Linked DNA regions of Homo sapiens: regions 2, 3 and 4 are each linked to region 1. Evidence: fine-mapped expression QTL. A gene starts in region 1. Each other region holds a variant in brackets. All regions are shown on one strand. Distances are from middle to middle.

Evidence for each region.
Region 2: its variant is fine-mapped to the expression of RHPN1 in whole blood (TOPMed, PIP above 0.99).
Region 3: its variant is fine-mapped to the expression of RHPN1 in whole blood (GTEx, PIP above 0.99).
Region 4: its variant is fine-mapped to the expression of RHPN1 in whole blood (TOPMed, PIP above 0.99).

Annotation. Positions count from the first base shown.
Region 1 is chr8:143,366,319-143,371,468 of GRCh38, reverse strand. RHPN1 (rhophilin Rho GTPase binding protein 1) reads right to left here and starts at 2,593. Exons shown (of 15, transcript NM_052924.3): 1 at 2,422-2,593. The coding sequence starts at 2,481. RHPN1-AS1 (RHPN1 antisense RNA 1) reads left to right here and starts at 2,834. Exons shown (of 1, transcript NR_026785.1): 1 at 2,834-4,846. RefSeq lists enhancers at 525-1,431, 1,432-2,339, 3,080-3,635 and silencers at 2,127-2,176, 2,377-2,836, 2,847-2,916.
Region 2 is chr8:143,339,179-143,344,328 of GRCh38, reverse strand. It overlaps a transcript of TOP1MT not described here. Among named protein-coding and RNA genes, the nearest start is that of TOP1MT, 6.9 kb to the right of the region's middle. RefSeq lists an enhancer at 4,455-5,150. The variant A/G (reference allele first, on the strand shown) is at 2,523.
Region 3 is chr8:143,329,504-143,334,653 of GRCh38, reverse strand. TOP1MT (DNA topoisomerase I mitochondrial) reads left to right here. Exons shown (of 14, transcript NM_052963.3): 2 at 3,315-3,430. Among named protein-coding and RNA genes, the nearest start is that of TOP1MT, 2.8 kb to the left of the region's middle. RefSeq lists a silencer at 1-76 and enhancers at 277-326, 1-550, 2,226-2,759. The variant C/T (reference allele first, on the strand shown) is at 3,191.
Region 4 is chr8:143,230,046-143,235,164 of GRCh38, reverse strand. No RefSeq gene overlaps it. Among named protein-coding and RNA genes, the nearest start is that of ZFP41, 14 kb to the left of the region's middle. The variant A/G (reference allele first, on the strand shown) is at 2,352.

The DNA of each region.
Region 1 (5,150 bases):
CCCTGGGCCAGGCAGTCCCCAGGGAGAGGTCACCCACCTGGAGCAAACCAGCTTTTTCCCTTCAGAGCCCTGGCCCTGGGCACCCTGTATGCTGACAGCCACCCATCTCAGGTACCCCTCTCCTCTGCCCCCACTGAAGTCTCACCTGAATGCAAGAACTGGAAGCCCCAGGAGGGTGGAAGCCCAGCACCCACCTGACCCACCATCTCTGCCCCCCACTGATGAGGGAACAGAATTCAAAGGGCATTGCTGCACAGGTGTCTCCTGGGACACAGGGCTATAAGCAGCACGCACGCCAGAGGAATCATAGACTGGCCACTCACGGCAGGGACTCCCACTCTCTCTGATGCTCCCTGGGGTACCCAGGCACTGGTGCTTCCTGAGCACCCCTCTTCCTGGAGCCCAATCTACCTGGGCAGGGGCCTGGGAACCTGTAACCAGCACCCAGAGGGTGCTCCTGTCCAGCCAGGCTGGGGAACCTCAGGCTGACCCACTCGGCATGCTGGAGACCAGGTGAGGGGGGCACAGCCACCCTGCCCACCTGCTGCTCCAACGCTCTCCCTCTGCAGCCTGCTCCCCCTTCTCCCACTGGCCTCCCCAGGAAACCACAGAACCTTCTGCATACAGCCAGGCTGTATTCCTTGTGGTCCTCCCCCGGGAGCCCCTGCAGCCCCTGCGGGAGGGACGGCAGCTGGGTTGGCCACCCTGGGCCGTGCCAGGCTTCTCCCCTTCCCAGCTTGGCAGCCTTGGCCACTTACTCACCCTGTTCATCAGACGGGCTGAGGCCCAGGGCTTGGGAGGCACCAATGGCAGGACTCCAGCTGTAGCACTGGCCCTGGCACCAGGTAAGCGCTTGCTGGAAGCCTGCTCTCATCACGCCTGGGGCAAATACAAGTCACCCAGACCTGTCCACAGGGCCTCAGGCCCAGGTGTGGCCTCTAAGTGGATGAACGACCGACCCCTGACCCACTGAACTCTGAGCTTTAGGGCCAGTTTGGGGGCCAGCCTGATGGGGGTGGAACAGGCCTCACTCTAGCCCGGCAGCAGGCATCGGGGAAGACTTTCCAGATGGCAGGACAGCCTGAGTGGTGCGCGTGTGACACAGGGCCTGCCTCCGCCCCACTGCCACCTCCCACGGGCCCCTCCCCAGTACCCTGACTGTGGGGTCATTTCTGGACGCTGTGAGAGACACGGCAGCCTGGAAACAGCTTCTCCCCAACTTTCCAAGGTGGCAGCCCAGGGAGGGCCAGGACAGGGAGCCCAGGCACAGCCCCCAGCCTGAAAAGCGTCACCTCCGGAGCCCTCTGGGACATCTTGTTTGTACAGCCTCCCAAACATTCCACCCAAAACAACATGTGCCGTCCCAGGCCACCTGCAGGCATGGCCGCCCTGACAGAGCAAGTTCATAGGGGGCAGGCACAGGCTGCCTCTTTCCCTCCAGTGCCCAGGAGGTGCTGCAGCCTCTGGCACGCCTCGGGGTGGGCAAGAAGGGCGTCCTTGAGGGCTACGGTCAGCATCACCAGCCCAGTGACCTGAAGCCAAACCCTGGCTGATAGCACCGCCTCCTCCTCTAGGAGACCTAACCCCAAACACCAAAGCCGAGTAGAACCAGCCCAGGGACAACACAGTCTGACGTCCCAGAGGGGAGGAGGGCCGCGCGCTATCAAAGGCTCACCCGGGGCGAGGAGCAGGAGCAGCCCGCGGCTGAAAGCCCGTGGCGGGCGTGGGCGCCCAGGGCCTGGCAGGAGGACTGGGGCAGCCTCGAGCTGGTCCGCAGGGAACAAGCAGGCTCTGGGCTGCAGAGCAAGGCCCACAGACGTCCCCTCCTTCCCAGGCACAGACTCAGCAGGTCTCCACAGCCCTGCCCACCCCTCCCACTTGCCCAGTCAGCACCCCGGGTTAGGGACTTCAGAAGGGAAGGAGGTTTGGGAAGTGAGAAGAGGCCAGCCGGGAAGACCTCTCTCGGTTTCCCATACCCAGGAGGCTTCGCTGCCCGCTGCTACCAGTGCACCCAATGGGCATGCAGTTCCTGAGCGGATGCAGAGGGAGGACCGAACTAGGGAAGGAGGCTGTACAGGTGCCGGAAAGGAACACGATGGCGGGTGTGGGGAGGGCGCTCACAGAGCCCAGCCCCACATCCGCCCAGAAGGGGGACACGAGGAGGGCGTCCCCCCAACCCGCTTCAGCGGTGAGGATGATCCAGACTTTGGCTGTCCGCATTTCCCGGCTCACATGAGTGGCCTGGAAGCACCTCCACCGAGCTCAGAGGAGGAGGGACGCAGGCTCTGGCCTCAGTTTCCCTGCCTGCGTCCGGGCCGAATGAGACGTAGGAGGGGGGCGCCCGGAACGCGCCTCGAGGGGGGGCAGGAAAAGGCCGGGATTCCGGGCCCCTCCTCCCGCCGCCGCGCCAGTTCTGCGCACCTGCAGCCGCGGGCTCTCCTCGCCGGCGCCCGCGCCGTCCGGCCTCTCCTCCAGGATCATCGCCGCACCCGCTGCGCTGGGGGTCCCTCGGGGTCAGCCAGCCCGCCGCTCGCGCAGCGCTCCGCAGCCGGGCTAGGGCCGCCCGCACCACCTGGGCCGCGGGCTCCTGAGTGCCCGCGCCGGTCCCCGACTGTCCCTCCTGAGTGGGGGCGGCCCGCGGCGCGGCTGGGCGGGGCACGGGTCTGGCGTGCGAAGCTGGCCATTGCCCAATAGGCGGCAATGCCGCTTCGACGGACAGCTATATCAGCCAACCAGAGTTCCAGGAAGGCGGGCTCTGGACGGCCAGCTCCGCCCGCCCGCGGGACGGTAACCCCTGGCAACCGCGGCCGGAACGCCCGCGGCTGGCTGGCAGGTTGTACTGCGCATGCGCCGCGGCGGCCGCTGAGCGTGCGGGAGAAGTTCGGGAAACGGAGAAAAAAACTATACGGAACGTCCCAAGCTGAGAGTCAGGGCGGACCTGGACTCGGCGCGCCTAGCTCCTCGGCTCCCTTTGCGGGGACTCCAGGAGTCTGCCCGCTCGCGCCGTTTCGTCCTGTCACCCCGGCAACGGGACCCTCTAAGAGGCTTGTTCCAAAAATGTTCACAATGGGGTTTTTAAAAACGGTTTTGTTAGGGACAAGTGCTTGTGTGAGTCCTCCGACAATGCCTGCTTTCTTCTCTCTGCCCGCGGAGCGGAGGCTCCAGGCCTGGCCCCAGTCCGAGGCGCCTCTGTCGGTGTCGTCCTGCTTCCAAAACCGGCCTCCAGAACCCGCCTCCTTCCAGAACCTCCGTCCAGAACCCGCCTCCCTCCAGAACCTCCGTACAGAACCCACATCCTTCTAGCACCTGCCTCTGGAACCCACGTGCTTTCAGAACTACCTGTTTGTAGAACTTGTTTCCAGAACGAACCTGCTTTCCGAATCTCTTTACTTCCAGAGCTTGTTTCCTGGACTGACCTATTTTCAGAACCTACTTTCAAAACCAGCTTGCCTCCAGGACCACCTGCTTGGAGAACTGGCCTGCAGCCCCAGGACTGGACGACCTGAGACTGCACAGCTCCCTGCGGGGCTCACCCGGCTGTGTGTGTCCTTCCGGGCCTTCCATACTTCCCTAGGTGTCTGGTGACTCCGGAGCCCGCTCGGATTTCGTGTGGGTCTCGCCTCAGCTCAGAACACACCCTTTGAAGAGCAGGAAGGCCAGGGCACAGGCGGTAACCACGGCTCCTGGTCATCAAGTTCCTCTGAAGCCCAGGTCTTGTCCACGTTCACTGCCCCACCACAGGCCCAGCGGAGCCTTGGAGCTGAGCCCTGGGATCATTCTGGTGCCTGTGCTCCCGGCTCCGCAACAAGCACACAGGAGCCTGTCATCCCCAGATCTAAATCCTGAAGGCTAAGCTCCGTGGTCTGCCGCAGCCATCTGCAGCAGGCCCCTCCCAGCAACAGCCTTCTCATAAGGCCCCTGCCAGCCACGCGAAACCTCCTGGCTAGGGCCTGTCTTCCACTCCTGGCCTTTTGAGACAGGGCCTCACTCTGTTCCCCAGGCCGGAGTGCAGTGGTACGATCACAGCTCACTGCAGCCTCCACCTCCTGGGCTCATGTGATCCTCCCACCTCAGCCTCCTGAATAGCTGGGACTACAGGCTTGCACCACCACACCCGGCTAATTTTTGTATATTTTGTAGAGACAGGGTTTCGCCACATTGCCCAGGCCCAGGCTGGTCTCAAACTTCTGGGCTCAAGCAATTCATCTGCCTCAACCTCCCAAAAGTGCTGGATTACAGGGATGAGCCACCATACCCGGCTTTTTTTTTTCTTTCTCCTGGCCTTTTGGGGCCCTTGAAGTGTCTGCTCCCTGGGAGCCCTTCAGCTTGTCGTCCACTTGGTGGGTTCCCACCCGTCCTTCTCACTTCTGCCTGAATCACACAGGCTACATGAGACCTTCACCCACCCCCTTCGCCAGCAGCTCTGTGGTTCAAGTTTCCTCAAGGTTAGGGGCTCCTGGCCATCTTACCTGTGGGCCTGAGCATGGGCCGATGCTTCCAAAGTTCACACTGGGTGCACTTGTGTGGGGACTTCCATGTGAGTCATCTCCTTGCAGGCTGCCAAGGTCCTGTACAGCAGAGACCCAAACCCTCTTAGCAGTCTTCAGAGTCAGCTATGTGTACAGGAGGCATTACCATATCAGTGACTGTCAGCAAGCATGTGTGACTGAAATGGTATCCAGTTCTTACGTATTTGTTTTGCAGGCTTCTTGGTTCAGCAGACAGAGGCCATTGGGAAGTTAAGAGAGGCTCTCAAACTTTGAGGGTCATAAGACTTCCCCTCCCTGCAGGGTGCTGTTTCCTGAAGGAAAATATTCAATTACTATTTTCTTTATTTATTTATTGAGATGGAGTCTTGCTCTTGTCGCCCAGGCTGGAGTGTGTGCGTGTGCGTGTGTGCGTGTGCGTGTGTGTGCGTGCATATGTGCGTGTGTGCGTGTGTGTGTGTGTGTGTGTGTGTTGGAGGGGGGTGGTGCTGCCTTTTTCTTTGCATGCTTCTGTGTTACTGGATTTGGCACAGCAAGAATGTATCACTGCACTCAAAAAATTTAGAGTTTCCTTTTTGTTTTTTTAAATTATTTTAGATTTGGAGGTACATGTGTGGGTTTGTTACATGTGTATTGTGCACTTCTGAAGTTTAAAAATTTAGG
Region 2 (5,150 bases), 27 kb after region 1:
GCTGGGGCAGAGGGGGCCTCCCACGGCTTCCCTGTGGGACTCTAGGCCTCTGCAGTCAGCACATCCTGAGAGGACCGTGGGTGTCTGCTGCCCTTCCCTCCCTAGTCCTCTCGTTTCGGTGAAGCGGCTCCTTCTGTCTTCTCAAGCACAGACCTTGGTGTCATCTTTGAGGGCCCCATCCTTGAGGGCCTAGATTCCACATGAAATCCATCTATGAATCCTGCTTTCCAGCTGTGTTACAACAGGGCCTCCTCTCACCTTTCTCGGCTGGCCCAGGCCTCTGCCTCAGTAGGGCTCTAACATGATTTTCAGAAATCTCACAGGTTTTTCCTTGCAAGACGCGTGTTTCACTGTGTCTCCAGTCTGCATGGATGTGGGCGTGTGTTGTGATGGTCAGATGGTGGAGTGAGAGCAGCCATAGTGTGAGGTGTGGGTGAGGGTGGCCAGTCAGCCGATGAGTGGGAGCGTTCAGACCGGGGTGCCTGGTGCCCCCATAACCTCCTCGGGGTTCCCAGGGATGGCGCCTCTGACCCAGCGTGCAGCCCGAGGTGGGCCCCGTGCCATTCCCACTTAAGCGAAGTGTCTGTTCCTCTCTCTGTTCAATGTGGGTTTTGTTTCTGAATATATTTTCTCACACTTCTTCTTCAAAAGTTACTTTGGAAAGACTGTTTTTCCAAATTGATGATCTCTGAACTGCTGTGGTGTTGGTGGGGACAGAGATGGTCCCAGAGGGGACCTGGGAGCTGCCTTTTACTGCCTGCCCACTCTTCCCGAGGCCGGGAGGGGCCTGAGATGTGTTCGCAGCTTCTGGCCTCGGGCGGGACTTCCCACCGCCAGCTGGTGCTGTGCTCAGAGTCAGAGGTTCCTTGATGCCCAGCACGTGGGTCACCAGCAGCTTTGCCAGGTGTACTTTTGAAAAATGAGAAAAGGGTCATGAAGAGCTTGGGAGGCTTCCATGAGGTTGTTCTGACTCTCTGTTGTTAGAATGGCAACCCTAAATGAGCCGCAGAGCTGCATGTTTATGTATACATTTGAATTCTAGATTTGCACAGATCACCACGCCAGTGAAGACTAATCACCATGAAAAGCCACCCAAGAAAAAAGGCCAAGTCGGCATCTTAAATAGGAAATGAATGTGTGAACATGATTCTGATAAGCAACTTCCCAGGCACTCATGCCTGATGAATGCTTATTCTTGCAGATATGACAACACAAATGAACTTAGTGTCTGATTTTCTTCTAAGATTTTATGGTGAAATAAGTTAGCAGGCCAGGCGTGGTGGCTCATGCCTATAATCCTAGCACTTTGGGAGGCGGAGGTGGGTGGGTCACCTGAGGTCAGGAATTTGAGACCAGCCTGTCCAACATGATGAAACCCCCTCTCTACTAAAAATACAAAATTAGCCGGGTGTGGTGGTCGGGAGGCTGAGGCAGGAGAATCGCTTGAACCCGGGAGGCAGAGGTTGCAGTGAGCCGAGATCACGCCACTGCACTCCAGCCTGGGTGACAGAGCGAGACTCTGTCTCTAATAATAATAATAATAATAATAATAGAGCAAGACTCTGTCTCTAATAATAATAACAGAGCGAGACTCTGTCTCTAATAATAATAATAACAGCGAGACTCTGTCTCTAATAATAATAATAATAATAGAGCGAGACTGTCTCTAATAATAATAATAATAATAGAGCGAGACTGTCTCTAATAATAATAATAATAACAGCGAGACTCTGTCTCTAATAATAATAATAACAGAGCGAGACTCTGTCTCTAATAATAATAATAATAACAGAGCGAGACTCTGTCTCTAATAATAATAATAATAACAGCGAGACTCTGTCTCTAATAATAATAATAATAACAGAGCGAGACTCTGTCTCTAATAATAATAATAATAACAGAGCGAGACTCTGTCTCTAATAATAATAATAATAACAGCGAGGCTCTGTCTCTAATAATAATAACAGAGCGAGACTCTGTCTCTAATAATAATAATAACAGCGAGACTCTGTCTCTAATAATAATAATAATAACAGCGAGACTCTGTCTCTAATAATAATAATAACAGAGCGAGACTCTGTCTCTAATAATAATAATAATAGAGCGAGACTCTGTCTCTAATAATAATAATAACAGCGAGACTGTCTCTAATAATAACAGAGCGAGACTCTGTCTCTAATAATAATAATAATAACAGAGCGAGACTGTGTCTCTAATAATAATAACAGAGCGAGACTCTAATAATAATAATAACAGAGCGAGACTCTGTCTCTAATAATAATAATAACAGCGAGACTCTGTCTCTAATATAATAACAGAGCGAGACTCTGTCTCTAATAATAATAATAACAGCGAGACTCTGTCTCTAATAATAATAATAACAGAGCGAGACTCTGTCTCAATAATAATAATAATAACAGAGTGAGACTCTGTCGCTAATAAGAAGAAGAAGAAGGGGGAGGAGAAAGAGGAAGGAGGAGGAGGAGGAAGAAGAGGAAGAAGAAGGAAGAAGGAAGCACTAG[A/G]TGGGGCAGTGGTGTCGGGATAGTGCTCTGTGACCTTCCCTTTCTGGTGTTTTGTGTCTGGGTCAGGGTGGACGCTGGCAGTATGGCCTGTTGCGGCCTGCACCTGCTCCGGAGTTGGGAGCAGCCCCAAGCTGACCCCTGGCTCCTTTGTTCATTGCCCTTGGTTTCTGCTCCTGACAGAGGCCACAAGGGCTGAGATCAAGAGGCCATTTTCCAAAGCTGAGTTAAAAGCATCTGTTAGGCCCATGGAGGGCAGCCATTGCTGGGGTGGGGAAGGTGAACCTTCCCTCCTCCTCTGGGGTCTCCGGGTGGGTATGTTTGTGGCCCTGTGGCCCCTCTCATGGTGTGTGCTCTCTGTTCTGGGCAAGGTCCCAAGGCCACACGGAGGTTCCTGCAGACAAGATGAAGATGGCCCTTGGTGGATGTGCCCGGGGTCCTGACACCCAAGAGAAGAGATAGAAGGGCATGGCCCTGCAGGCGGTGCCCAGCCGGAAGGGGGCTCTGGAAGAGGACCTGGACTGTGAGCTCACAGACACTGGCCGGGGCAAGGGCTGTGTGGAAGAGAGGCACAAACTGAGAAAAAAAAAAGAATATCCGAAGAGAAAGGGGAGAAAGGGCTTCAGGACAAACGTGTGGGGAGATGCACTGGGGCGGCAGCACGAGAAGAGGGTGGCGGGGACGCTAGGGGCAAGCCTGAGACCCTCAGCTGTGGGGAGCGGAAGAGTGCAGGGGCCGCCGTGGGAGCTGGGGAGGAGCGCGCTCTGGGCAGTGGGATAGACAGAGCAGTTCCCACAGAAGAGGTGCGAAGCGTGGCCAGGAGCAGGTGCACAGTGAGGGCATGGTGCCCACCCCAGCACGGAGGACGAGCCAGGGCCACACTGAGCAGAAAGGAGAGTTACGGGCCAGGAGACAAGCACAGAACGAGGACGAGGATGTAAAAGAAGTGTGGGTGGGAAAAACCAAGAAAGAAGAAAGTGACAAATTAGGTAGTGGCACAAAAGTGGGACAGGAGGCCTTGGTTTCCAGAAAAGAAAAGAAGAGGGAGACAGACAAAGCTGGGGAAGAGGGGACTCGAAAACCAAAGAAATGAAAAGCTCAGGACCTGGAGGAAGACAGAGAAGTGCAGTGTGGGAGTGAGCTGGACGGGGCACCACAGCCAGCGGCGTGGCCTCGCCATTGCCCTGGGGCAAAGGGTGACTGGGAGGTGGGGGGCCTGGTGAAGAAGCCCCAAGAAGAGAAAGCTCAGGGCAGCCGGAAGCCAGCCAGAAGCAGAGAGAAGTGGAAGGAGGGGGAGCCAGTTGATGCTGGGGTGTCCAGAGGGAGAGAAGAAAGATGGCCAGGAGGCAGCTAAGCCACAGGAGGAGAGCCAGAAAGGGTGGGAGAAGGCCGAAGGCAGCAGGTGGAAATGGTGTGTACCCTACCCCACCCCTTCTCTCCCTCCATGTCCTGACGGGGTGGTGGGAATGCTGTGTAGACCAGTGCTGGGAGGGGGGGAATGCTGTGCAGACCGGTGCTGGGAGGGGGGAATGCTGTGTAGACCAGTGCTGGGAGTGTGGGAATGCTGTGTAGACCAGTGCTGGGAGGGGGGGAATGCTGTGTAGACCAGTGCTGGGAGTGGGGGAATGCTGTGTAGACCAGTGCTGGGAGTGGGGGAATGCTGTGTAGACCAGTGCTGGGAGTGGGGGAATGCTGTGTAGACCAGTGCTGGGAGTGGGGGAATGCTGTGTAGACCAGTGCTGGGACGGGGGAATGCTGTGTAGACCAGTGCTGGGACGGGGGAATGCTGTGTAGACCAGTGCTGGGAGTGGGGGAATGCTGTGTAGACCAGTGCTGGGACGGGGGAATGCTGTGTAGACCAGTGCTGGGAGTGGGGTAATGCTGTGTAGACCAGTGCTGGGACGGGGGGAATGCTGTGTAGACCAGTGCTGGGAGTGGGGGAATGCTGTGTAGACCAGTGCTGGGACGGGGGGAATGCTGTGTAGACCAGTGCTGGCAGGGGTGGAATGCTGTGTAGATCAGCGCTGGGAGCAGGGGAATGCAGTTTAGACCAGCACAGGCCCACTTCCCCTCCCTGTCCCTGGTGGGGGAGGCGGGGAGTGCTGTGTAGACCAGTGCTGGGAATGTGGGAATGCTACAGTGCTGGCCTTTGCCTGCCCACTGTAGGTTGCCAGGGAGCCTGGGTGCCCCCCAGAGTGCCCTCTTGCATCGGCAGCTTTGAGCTGTGGGTTGTAGGGTACTGGGAGCAGCCAGCAGTAAGTGAGTGTTTGCTGTGTGTCTGGCATTGCTTTTGGTCAGTCCTCTATGAAGTAGGTACTGCTATGTCCATTTTTCAGATGAGGAAACTGAGGTACAAAAAGGTTAAGTAACCGGGCCAAGGTCACATGGCCACAAGTGGGCCACACTGCAGTTGTAGCCGTCACCCCTGCTGTGTCCTGTACGCAGCCACGAGCTGCGCAGCTCTCCCAGTGGAGACGTGCTGGGGGTGTGATACGCACGCCTGCTTTGAGAAGAACGATGCATACCATCGCATTAGCATATTATGTTGAATGACAGTATTTTGGTTGAAATAGTTGAAATTAAGTATATTGTTAAGGTCAAAGTCACTGTTTCTTTTGCAGTGTGGCTTCT
Region 3 (5,150 bases), 37 kb after region 1:
CGGCCTTGCCCTGCTTCCGGTTTTCCCAAAAGTCGGGCCAGGAGAGCATGCGTGCCGCGGTGTGACCGGCCCGCCTCCTGCCCGGGGTGTACAGGCCCCCCCATGACGTCGCCCTTGCTTCCCCAGGCACCACCCCACCAACCCTATTTGGGGAAATCTCCCCTCTTTTTTTCCGCTTGTGGTTTCATCATTTGTGTAGCTGTGCCTGGGCCTCAACACTGTAGGGTTTGGTTAGGTACTTTATAAAAAGCTTATGTTGCTGTGCATGGTCTTCTGAGACCCGCTCTTTCCTGGAGTCGGTTCCCGGGTTGTCTCCAGGACCGATTCTGCATGGCGGCGGGCGCTCACTGTCATATCTACATCACCAGGCACAAGCCGCATGGATCCAGTGGCCCTGGTGGCCGTTGGTGGTCCCAGGCGCTTTCCTGGAGGACATGTGAGAAGCCCTGCCGGCGCATACTGGGCCTGGGGTAGCCGCATGGGGATGGGTCTCTGCGCATGAAATGCTGGAGTTTCCGAAGAGCTGGAGAGTTGACAGCCTCACTGGTGCGTGGGAGATCCTGCAGGAGTTCCCGCCAGGTCTCGCGGTTTATCATCATTCACTTAGTGCTTCCAGCGTGGCATGTCTCTGTGACCTGGTGGTGCGCTATCAGCATACCCATTCACAGCTGAGGGCCTGCACAGCTGCCTAAGGCCATGCTGCAGAAATGTCCTGTCTGCCTGCAGGAGCTTGGGACCCAAAGAGAGCCCCAGATGGGGCAGGGTGTCTTGGGAGGAGGGAGTTCTGGCCTGCGCTTGGAGCTGGGGCTGGCTGTGGGCCCTGCATTGAGGCACATCTCTCCGAGGGTGCACAGGCAGGTAGGTGCTTTCCAAAAAGTGCTGCTGAGCTGCAGTCGCCCAGGTGGACAGGTGGGTTTGGAGCAAGGTCTCTGGCTTTGAAAGCCAGCTTGTGTCTGATGGTGGTGCTTGGTGCCCTGGTCTCTGCAGGGGTGAAAGAATGTCACTACAATGTGCAGCCCTCAGTTGGGCTTGAGCGCACACCCAGTGGTGCAGCCCTGCCTGGCCGCTGGCCGGCAGGTTGTTTCACCTCAGTGTCTTCATCTGTGAAATGAGACTGGTGATGTGACTACCCTAGAGGCTTTGTGAAGGACTTGGCAGTCAGGGTCACTGTCAGTTCTTTATTTTTATTTTTATTATTATTATTTGAGACAAAATCTTGCCCTGTCACCCAGGCTGGAGTGCAGTGGTGCAATTTCAACTCACTGCAACCTCTGCCTCCTGGGTTCAAGTGATTCTCCTGCTTCAGCCTCCTTGAGTAGCTGGGATTACAGGCACCCGCCACCACGCCTAGCTAATTTTTGTATTTTTAGTAGAGACGGGGGTTTTGCCATGTTGGCCAGGCGGGTCTCGAACTCCTGGCCTCAAGTGATCCGCCCGCCTCGGCCTCCCAAAGTGCTGGTATTACAGGCGTGAGTCACCGCGCCTGGCTCCTATCAGTTAGTTCCGAGATACACGTGGTTTCCCATTTTCTCACACCCGACATGATCCATCTTCCCTTATTCTCTAAGAAGGCGTTGTCTAGGTTTGCATCCTTCAGGGCACTTAGTGGTGCAGCCTCCTACCAGCCCCACCCTAGACATGCTGTATCAGGGCTGGTGGGCTCTCTTGAACTCCTAAAACCTGTAAGAAAGGTGAGGCTGGTCTCACCTGACGTGGAAAAGCTCTGCAGAGTCAGCAGAACCCCCCTCTCCCCGAGTCTCCCTCCAGACTCCAGCTGCCTGCAGCATCTGCCAGCTAGTTTTTTTGTACTTTCGCCATGTTGGCCAGGCTGGCCTTGAGCTCCTGAGCCTGCCTCAGCCTCCCAAAGTGCTGGGATCACAGGCGTGAGCCACCACGCCCGGCTCCACCCTGGAAGGTTCTTGAGCCCGTTAACTTCTCCCTACTTTATCAGCTCCGTCTCTACGTCTTCTAACCTTGCCCATTCCCTCCTCTGCAGAAACAGCCAGAAAGGCCCTTTCAGAAATGTCTGTTGCACATGCTTTCCCCTCTCAGACCCTTCAGAGACTTCCTGTTGCTCTGAGGACACTCATCCCAGCCGACCAGGCCCACCAGGCCCCCAACAGCACTACCTGGCTGGGGTCACGTGCAGGTCTCCTGGCTCTGGCAGGTGGGGGTGTGATCTGGAACCTTCTGTCCTTGTGCGTCTGGGGGAGGCTCAGAAGGTGTGCCCATCTCACTCTCCCCCATCCTGATGGTGCTCCCACCCTCTCGCCAAAGCCTCTCCCACTGAGGCCTTTGCACTGGCCATCCTGGGTGCTGGACTTGCTCTTCCCGCAGCCCTGCTGACCGAGCCTGCCCACTGCCTGCCAGCCACGCCCCATCTCGCTCCTCTTCTCCCAGGCCCATCTCAGAATCTAGGTTCAGTTGAGCCCTTCGTATGGGTTTTGGTGATCTGCATCCGCAGGACCCAGCGCAGTGCTGGTTCAGGGCAGGCTTGGGCTTGCCTCAATGGATAGATGATGACTGGCCTGGAGAGTTAGGATGGGCTGTAGCCGCCACGCTGGCTGTGTCCCCCCACCCCCTCCAACACCCCCCCAATCTCCAGAGCTGGGCTTGCCAGAAGGGGGCGCCCTGGGGAGGGGGACCTTGGCAGGGAGCCCTGTGGAGCCTCACTGTGTTAGTGCCTTACAAAAGGAGCCCTTCCCTGAAAACCCCTGAGGCTTCTGGCTTCAGGGCCTCCCCTCCCTGCCCCGCCTCCTCCACCCCGCCCTGCCTCTTCCACCCTTCCACCCTGCCCGATCCTCTGTGGGCGGCGGTCCTGCGCCCTGCTGTGGTGCCTCTCCACTGGCTGCACTGCTGGACCCCCTTCCACCCAGCTCCTCGGAGGCAGGGCTCTCTCATAAGCAGCCAGGTCCTTTATTTAGCAAATGAAATGGTCCCATGGAGAGGTTCCCGAAGATTCTAGACCGGCTCTGAAGGGACCCATCTGGGGAGAGGCCCTAGAGCCTGGGAGAGGCACGTTGCCTTTCCCACTTAGCTGGGCTTGCCCTTTCCCGCTTAGCTGGGCTTGGTGGGATCCGTGACTCAGCAGCACACGGGCCTCTGCAGGTGGGGGGCATGGGCGGGTACACGGGCATGGGGTCTGAGGTCAGGTAGGGTTGCCTCCCTCTGCAGGCCTTGTTTTCCTCCC[C/T]CGTGAGGTGGAGGCCACACTGCTCACCTGCTAGGAGCCACAGGGAGGAGCCACTGTGGGAGCGGGGAAGAGGCTCATGCAGGGCCTGGCCCAGGAGAGTGACACGTCCTGTCTCCGTCTTTAGGTGGGAGAAGGAGAAGCACGAAGACGGGGTGAAGTGGAGACAGCTGGAGCACAAGGGCCCGTACTTCGCACCCCCATACGAGCCCCTTCCCGACGGAGTGCGTTTCTTCTATGAAGGTAAGGATGCAGGGAGCGGCTCCTCCCCAGCCTGCGCTTGGTTCCCTGGGCGTGGGCTCCCAGTGGGCATCTGGCTCGCTCCCTCAGCCCCCCTGCAGGCTTCTGGCTATGAGCGCTCTGTGCCCTCTTCTTGCAGGTGATGCGTGGGGGCTGCTGACCAACTGACCCATGCTCAGAGGGTGGCAGTTCGGGGGCTCCCGTCCCTGCCTTTCCTGCTGAGCCTGCACTGGCTGTGCCTGTTGTGTCCAGGACCCTCTGGGCAAAGCGGACCCCCCCTCCCTCCCCCCGCACCACTGTGTTCCCTGTGTGTTCTGAGTATACACAGTACGTACACTGCGTGTACACACATGGATCACAGAACGGTCACTTGACCCCAGCTTGTGATTCTCAGCAAGAAGCGGAGCCCGTGGTTGACATGAGCGCTGAGCCACCCTCAGAGGCAGGACCCGGGGGCTCTGGGGCAGCAGGGCCCACACACCCCTCCTGCCCTTGAGCCCTCCTCTCTACCCCAGGGCCCAGGAGCTTTGGCTTGGCTCTTGTGCTGCTGATTTTAGCTGCTTCAGCCTATTTTCTTCATCTCTGCTAGAAGGCATCCTTCTAAGAAAAGCAAACCTCTTCTCCCCCAGGGCAGGCCCCCACGCCATGCTGTGCCCCTCCCACCAGCCCTCCCGTGGGCCCCCTGCCGAGTCACATGCACACCTGAGTTTGCTGAGCTCCTTTGATGCAATGTTTTGTTCAAAGCCTGTTTCTCCAAAGCGGTACTGGAGCTTCCACAGGGACAGAGGTTCTAGCTGTGTCTGTGGGGGCTGCCCACGGGAGGCCATGGGACCTTACTGAGCGTCTCGCGCTGTGCCCCTGGCCTGGTGTAGCGGCTGCCTCGCCTGCCCCACAGCAGCCCTGCAGGACCTCCCTGGCCAGGAGGGACATGGCAGGCGAGGACTGCTTATGCAGGGCCATGGTGGACAGTCCGGGGAGTGGTGGTGTCGCGTGGGGCCCAGTGGGGCCGAGCCTCCACAGAGGGGCAGTGGGAGCTGAGCCCCTCGGGCCTGTGCTGCTGGTCTCTGGGCCTCTCGTCCTCTGTCCTGAGAAGCTAGTTTGGGGAAGGATTGCTGCTGTTTATCAGAAATGCCTTCCTCCTTCTTACCAAATGATTATGCATTTATTTCTCTAAAATTTTCTTATGAAAGCTTTTCAGACGTGCAGTTGAAAGAATTCCTGGTGAACACCCTCGTTCCCACCACGAGCCTCTCACTCTGCTCGCCTGCTCCCAGCTCACCCCCCATCTCTAAACCACACTGATCTTAGAATAAAATGCAGGGAATGGTGGGACAGAGGCCGCAGAGTTGTAAAAGGGTACACCTAGTTATTCAGTTTTCTGCTTTGAAGCCTTAACTTTTATTTTACTTGTGAAATTTTGTGGAAATTGGTGTGTTTTAAAATTGTACATGTTCCATTTTCATGTAATATAAATGTAGTAGCAACGTTAAGTGGTAAAGGAGGAGAAAGCAGTAGCGCCTGAAATCTTCTGCAGCTTTCTCACGACCCGCTCCCAGATCACTGTGGTCGCCACCTCCACGCAGGTTGATTGTCGTGTGTCATGCAGAACATGCTTCTGAACTTACAGAAGAAGGCCTAGCTTCTTGCTCTTGGCATAGTACGCACGAAAGCGTAGTTTAAAGCAATGAGGTCATGTCAGCTGGAGGCCGAGCCTCTGGCCGCT
Region 4 (5,119 bases), 140 kb after region 1:
CGTGGACATCATCATTTTACAGATGAAGAACCACGGCTCAGAGAGGGCAGGGGACCAGGCTGATTTGCACAACAAGTAAGCTGTTGAGCCAGCATTGGACATCAGCCCACCTGGCCCTGGAGACCAGTGCTGCCTCATGATTCTCCAAGGCAGAGACCATCCTGAGTATGGTGCATGGCCAAGGCCTTGTCCACACCTGTTCTGTGCAGCTGGCAGAGGTTGGAAGGCCACTGTGCATGATGAAGCACAGATGGCCCCACCATGTTGAGGGGGCTGTGGGTAGGGTTGAGTGTGTGGACCCAGGAGCCAGGCCACCTGTGCTTAGATCCCAGAACTGCCTCAGAATTGCTGTCTGGTCCTGGGCAAGGCACTTAGCCTTCCTGTGCCTCAGTTTCCTCATCTGTAAGATGGGAGTGATGAAGGTCACAGTCATCTCCTCTCAGGGATGTGAAGAGGTCTGTTCTAAGATTATTTTTGTCATAGCTATTATGCTCCTTGGAATCCTCAGCGGGGGTGAGCTGTGATCTTGAGCCAACCAAGCTGCACTGCCCTGGGTCCAGGGAGCCAGCGGGGAAGATACGAGAGTCCAGTGTCTGTAGGGAAGGCAGACACCTGGCCTCATAGTGCCGAGGCCGCCCACATCACAGTCCGGGAGAGACGGGATCCTGGGTAGAAGAGACCTGGGCCCAGGAAGAGATAGACCCGAACCACAGTGCTGGGGGGAGGGTTATATGAGTCCGCCAGAGGTCTCAGCACTGGGGTGCATCACTGTGGAGGAGTGTGGTCAATAGGCAGGGGGTGACTGGACCAGGGCCCCCAGCACCTGAGGGAGGTCTGTGTGATACTAGGGTTTGTGTGTGGCTTTGGGACTGATTTACGAGACAACTCAGCACATGGTTAAGACAGAGCTGCTGTGGCCCTGGTGGTTGTGCAGCGCTGGCTGGGGGTCCCTTGGGAGTGTGTGACGGTGGACCTCACGGATGCCTGACCTTCACTGCACACTCATGTGCACCCAGGGCCCTCAGTTGTAGCTGCTGTCATGGCACAGAGGGAGAACTGGAGCAGCGCGCCCACCTAAAGTGCATGCCAGGAACATGGCAGATCGAAGCCCAGTCTGTCTGGCCTCATGGCCCCAGGGTGTGAGGGCAGAGCATGAAGGTGGATGGCCACAGGGAGGAGAACCCAGCAGCCGGCGTACAGGATCCGCACTGGCTGGGCACTGTCTCGGCCTTTCGTGCGTCCTCCCTGTGTCCAGAGCTGGCCTTCCTGTGGTGGTACCAGGCACACCCTATCCGCTGGGTGCTCATGAAGCTGGTGGCCTGGGCGCCTTCAGGGAAACAGAGGGGAGGGTACCCAGGTTTTCCCACACTAGTTGAAACCAGTCAGTACATACCTATCTTCTGTTTTCTGCAGGGTTTGAGCAAGGGCTGTGCCAAAACACACAATAAAACCAAACCAAACCCAAACTACGACAACATGGCTGGGCACTGTGGCTCATGCCTGTGATGCCAGCACTTTAGGAGGCCAAGGCGGGAGGATCACTTGCACTCAGGAGTGTGAGACCATTCTGGGCAACACAGCGAGACTGTCTCTACAAAAAACACCAAAAAATTAGCTGGGTGTGGTTGTGCGTGCCTGTGGTCCCGGCTACTTGGGAGGCTGAGGTGGGAGGATGGCTTGAGCCTGAGAGGTCGAGGCGGCAGTCAGCCGAGATCACGCCACTGCACTCCCACCTGGGTGGGAAGGTGAGTCCCTGTCTCTGGAAAAAAAAAAAAAAAAGAAAAAGAAAAAAAACAAAACAACAACAATAGCAAAACAGCACACAACCAGCTTTGTTCACACGGAGCTCAATCACCTTGACTTTTCTTCCAAGCCGACTCAGCCTTGAGCTCTCAGTCCCTCACATTCTGCCCACCCCTGGGTCTCCTGGGCCTCAATCCTGACATGTGAGCAAGGGCCTCCTTCTCTCTCTGTTTTTTTTTGAGACAGGGTCTCCCTCTGTCACCCAGGCTGGAGTGCAGTGGCGTGATCTTGGCTCACTGCAACGTCCACTTCTTGGTTCAAGTGATTCTCCTGCCTCAGCCTCCCAAGTAGCTGGGATTACAGGTGCCCACCACCACGCCTGGCTAATTTGTGTATTTTTAGTAGAGACCGGGTTTCACCATGTTGGCCAGGCTGGTCTTGATCTCCTGACCTCAGGTGATCTGTCCACCTTGGCCTTCCAAAGTGCTGAGATAACAGTCGTGAGCCACCGTGCCTGGCCAAGGGCCTCCCTCTCTAGGGGGCAGAAGGGCTGGGGCCTGTGCGCCCCCCAGCATGTTCCCACTCCATGACAGGCCCTCCCTCCAGGG[A/G]AGATCTTCAGTGCCCAGGGAGGGCTGATCTGCGCAGAGCCTTCCATGCTCCCTGCCACAGCTTCCCCGCACTGGGCTCCAGGGGTCCGGTGAGCACCTGGCACCCAATTCTCCCCAGGACGCCCACAGGCTCTCCCTCCAGCGGGGCTCCCTGACGCTTCGGACACCTGCTTTTATTAAAAATAGTCTGCCTTTAGTTTTTTAAAAATATTTTATTTTATTTTATGTTTTTTGAGATGGAGTCTCGCTCTGTCACCCAGGCTGGAGTGCAGTGGCGCGATCTCGGCTCACTGCAAGCTCCGCCTCCCAGGTTCATTCCATTCTCCTGCCTCAGCCTCCCAAGTAGCTGGGACTACAGGAGCCTGCCACCATGCCCGGCTAATTTTTTTGTATTTTTAGTCTAGACGGGGTTTCAGCGTGTTAGCCAGGATGGTCTCGATCTCCTGACCTCGTGATCTGCCCGTCTTGGCCTCCCAAAGTGCTGGGATTACAGGCATGAGCCACCATGCCCAGCCGCCTTTAGTTTTCAATTAAAAATTGTAATGAGGTCATTGTCGATTCACATATGGTTGTAAGAAATAACAGAGAGACATTCATTATATGCTTCGCTCGGTTTCTTCCAAGGGTAACCTTTTCTTTCTTTCTTTTTTTTTTTTTTTTGAGATGGAGTCTCACTCTGTTGCCTAGGCTGGAGTGCAGTGGCATGATCTCAGCTAACTGCAGCCTTTGCCTCCTGGGTTCAAGCTATTCTCCTGCCTCAGCCTCCCAAGTAGCTGGGATTACAGGTGCCTGCCACCACGCCTGGCTAATTTTTTTTTTTTTTTTGTATTTTTAGTAGAGATAGGGTTTCACTACATTGGCCAGGCTGGTCTTGAACTCCTGACCTCAGGTGATCCACTGGCCTTGGCCTCCCAAAGTGCTGGGATTACAGGCGTGCGCTACCGTGCCCAACCCAAGGCTATCATTTTGCATAACTTGGTGCAATATTACACCCTCCGCTGTGGGGAGGGGCATCTGGGAGCCCCTGTGGCCACTCATTGGTTCTCTCCATTTCCAGAATTGTGGCTGCAGGGAGCTGTGCAGAGGAAGTTGTCCTGGAGGCCGCCTGTTGAGAGGCCACTTTCACTCCGGAGAGTCTCTGTAGTTCCCCCTGGCGGCTATGCCATTCAGCGGCACCGCCTTCCTGTGGCTGGGCTGTCTCCCCTGGTGCCCATGGAACCAGCTGAACCCTTTGCCATTGAAGGACATCTGGGCTGCTTCCCAGGTTTTGCCTAAAACAAGTAAAGCTGCTGTGAACACTCATGAGCAGGTTTTTGTATGAACATGACTTTCATTTCTCTGGGGCGCATCAGGGGGTCGTGGGAGTTGCGTGTCTAGTTTGATAAGAAACAGCCAAGCTGTCTTCCAGAGCGGCTGCTCCATCGTCCACTCCCAGCAGCAGCAGGTAGGTGACCCAGCTTCTCTGCCTCCCCATCAACATGTGGGGTGGTCATGGTTTATTTATTTATTTATTTGATTTATTTTTATTTTTTCAGATGGAGCGTCTCTCTGTCACTCAGGCTGGAGTGCAATGGTGTGATCTCGGCTCACTGCATAATCCACCTTCTGGGTTCAAGCAATTCTTCTGCCTTAGCTTTCTGAGTAGCTGGGATTACAGGAGCGCACAACCACACCTGGCTGATTTTTATATTTTTAGTAGAGACAGGGTTTCACCATGTTGGCCAGACTGGTCTCAAACTCCTGACCTCAAGTGATCCTCCTGCTTTGGCCTCCCAAAGTGCTGGTATTACAGGCTTGAGCCACCGCATCCAGCAACAGTTTATTTTTTATTTAGCCGTTCTGATAGGTGTATAATGAGATCTCACCGTGAATTTTTTGTTTGTTTAGAAACAGGGTTTGCTATGTTGCCCAGTCTGATCTTGAACTTTGGGGCTCAAGTGATACACCCCCCTCGGCCTCCCAAAGTCCTGGGATGACATGAGTGAGCCATCGCTGCAGCCTCACCGTGGTTCTAGTGTCGGAACGCTGAGGGTGCGTGGTGTCGAACATCTGTTCCTGTGCACGTTTGCCTTCTGCGTGTCCTCGTCAGGGAAATAGCTCTTTACGTCGTTTGTCCATGTTGTAAGTGGGTTGTTTTTGTGCTGTTGAATTTTGAGATACGTTGTGAATAGATCGTAGATTCCAGTCCATTGTCCGCTATGCAGTTTGCAAACATTTTCTCCCAGTCTGTAGTTTGTCTTTCCTTCCTCTTCCCTGGGTCTTTTGTGGAGAAGTTTTTATGTCGAGGAGGTTGTCCTCTGCTGGGTTCCTACCCTCCTCTTGTTCATGGGATGCCCCAGCCGGGAGCTGGGTCCAGGCTTCCTGCACCACCAAAGCGGCAGTGAAAGGGCTCACCCCCGTGAGGTCTCTGCTGCTGGAAGCCTGAGTGTCAGGCAGCGCTCCCACCTCCTGATGTCTGGAAGCCCCTGCACCCCGCGGTATCCAGCATGGAACTAGCTGAACCCCCTTCCCCTCCCACCTGCAGACCCTAGAGGGCAGGAAGCCTTGGCTGTGCCCTGGTCTGAGGCCAGCCTGAAGGTGCATGACCTGCTTCCATGACAGGAGCTGGGGACGCCTCTCTCCTCTGGAAAGGTCCCAATACGGGCATCTCCTGTCAGGGACCTGGGTGCAGGAGCGGTGGCCTCGCCCTGCTTCCTGCAGAGCTGACCCATCCCGGTGACCATTAGCTTCTGCAGACCTCAGTGGTCTCAGGAAAGCGTCCCTAGGGT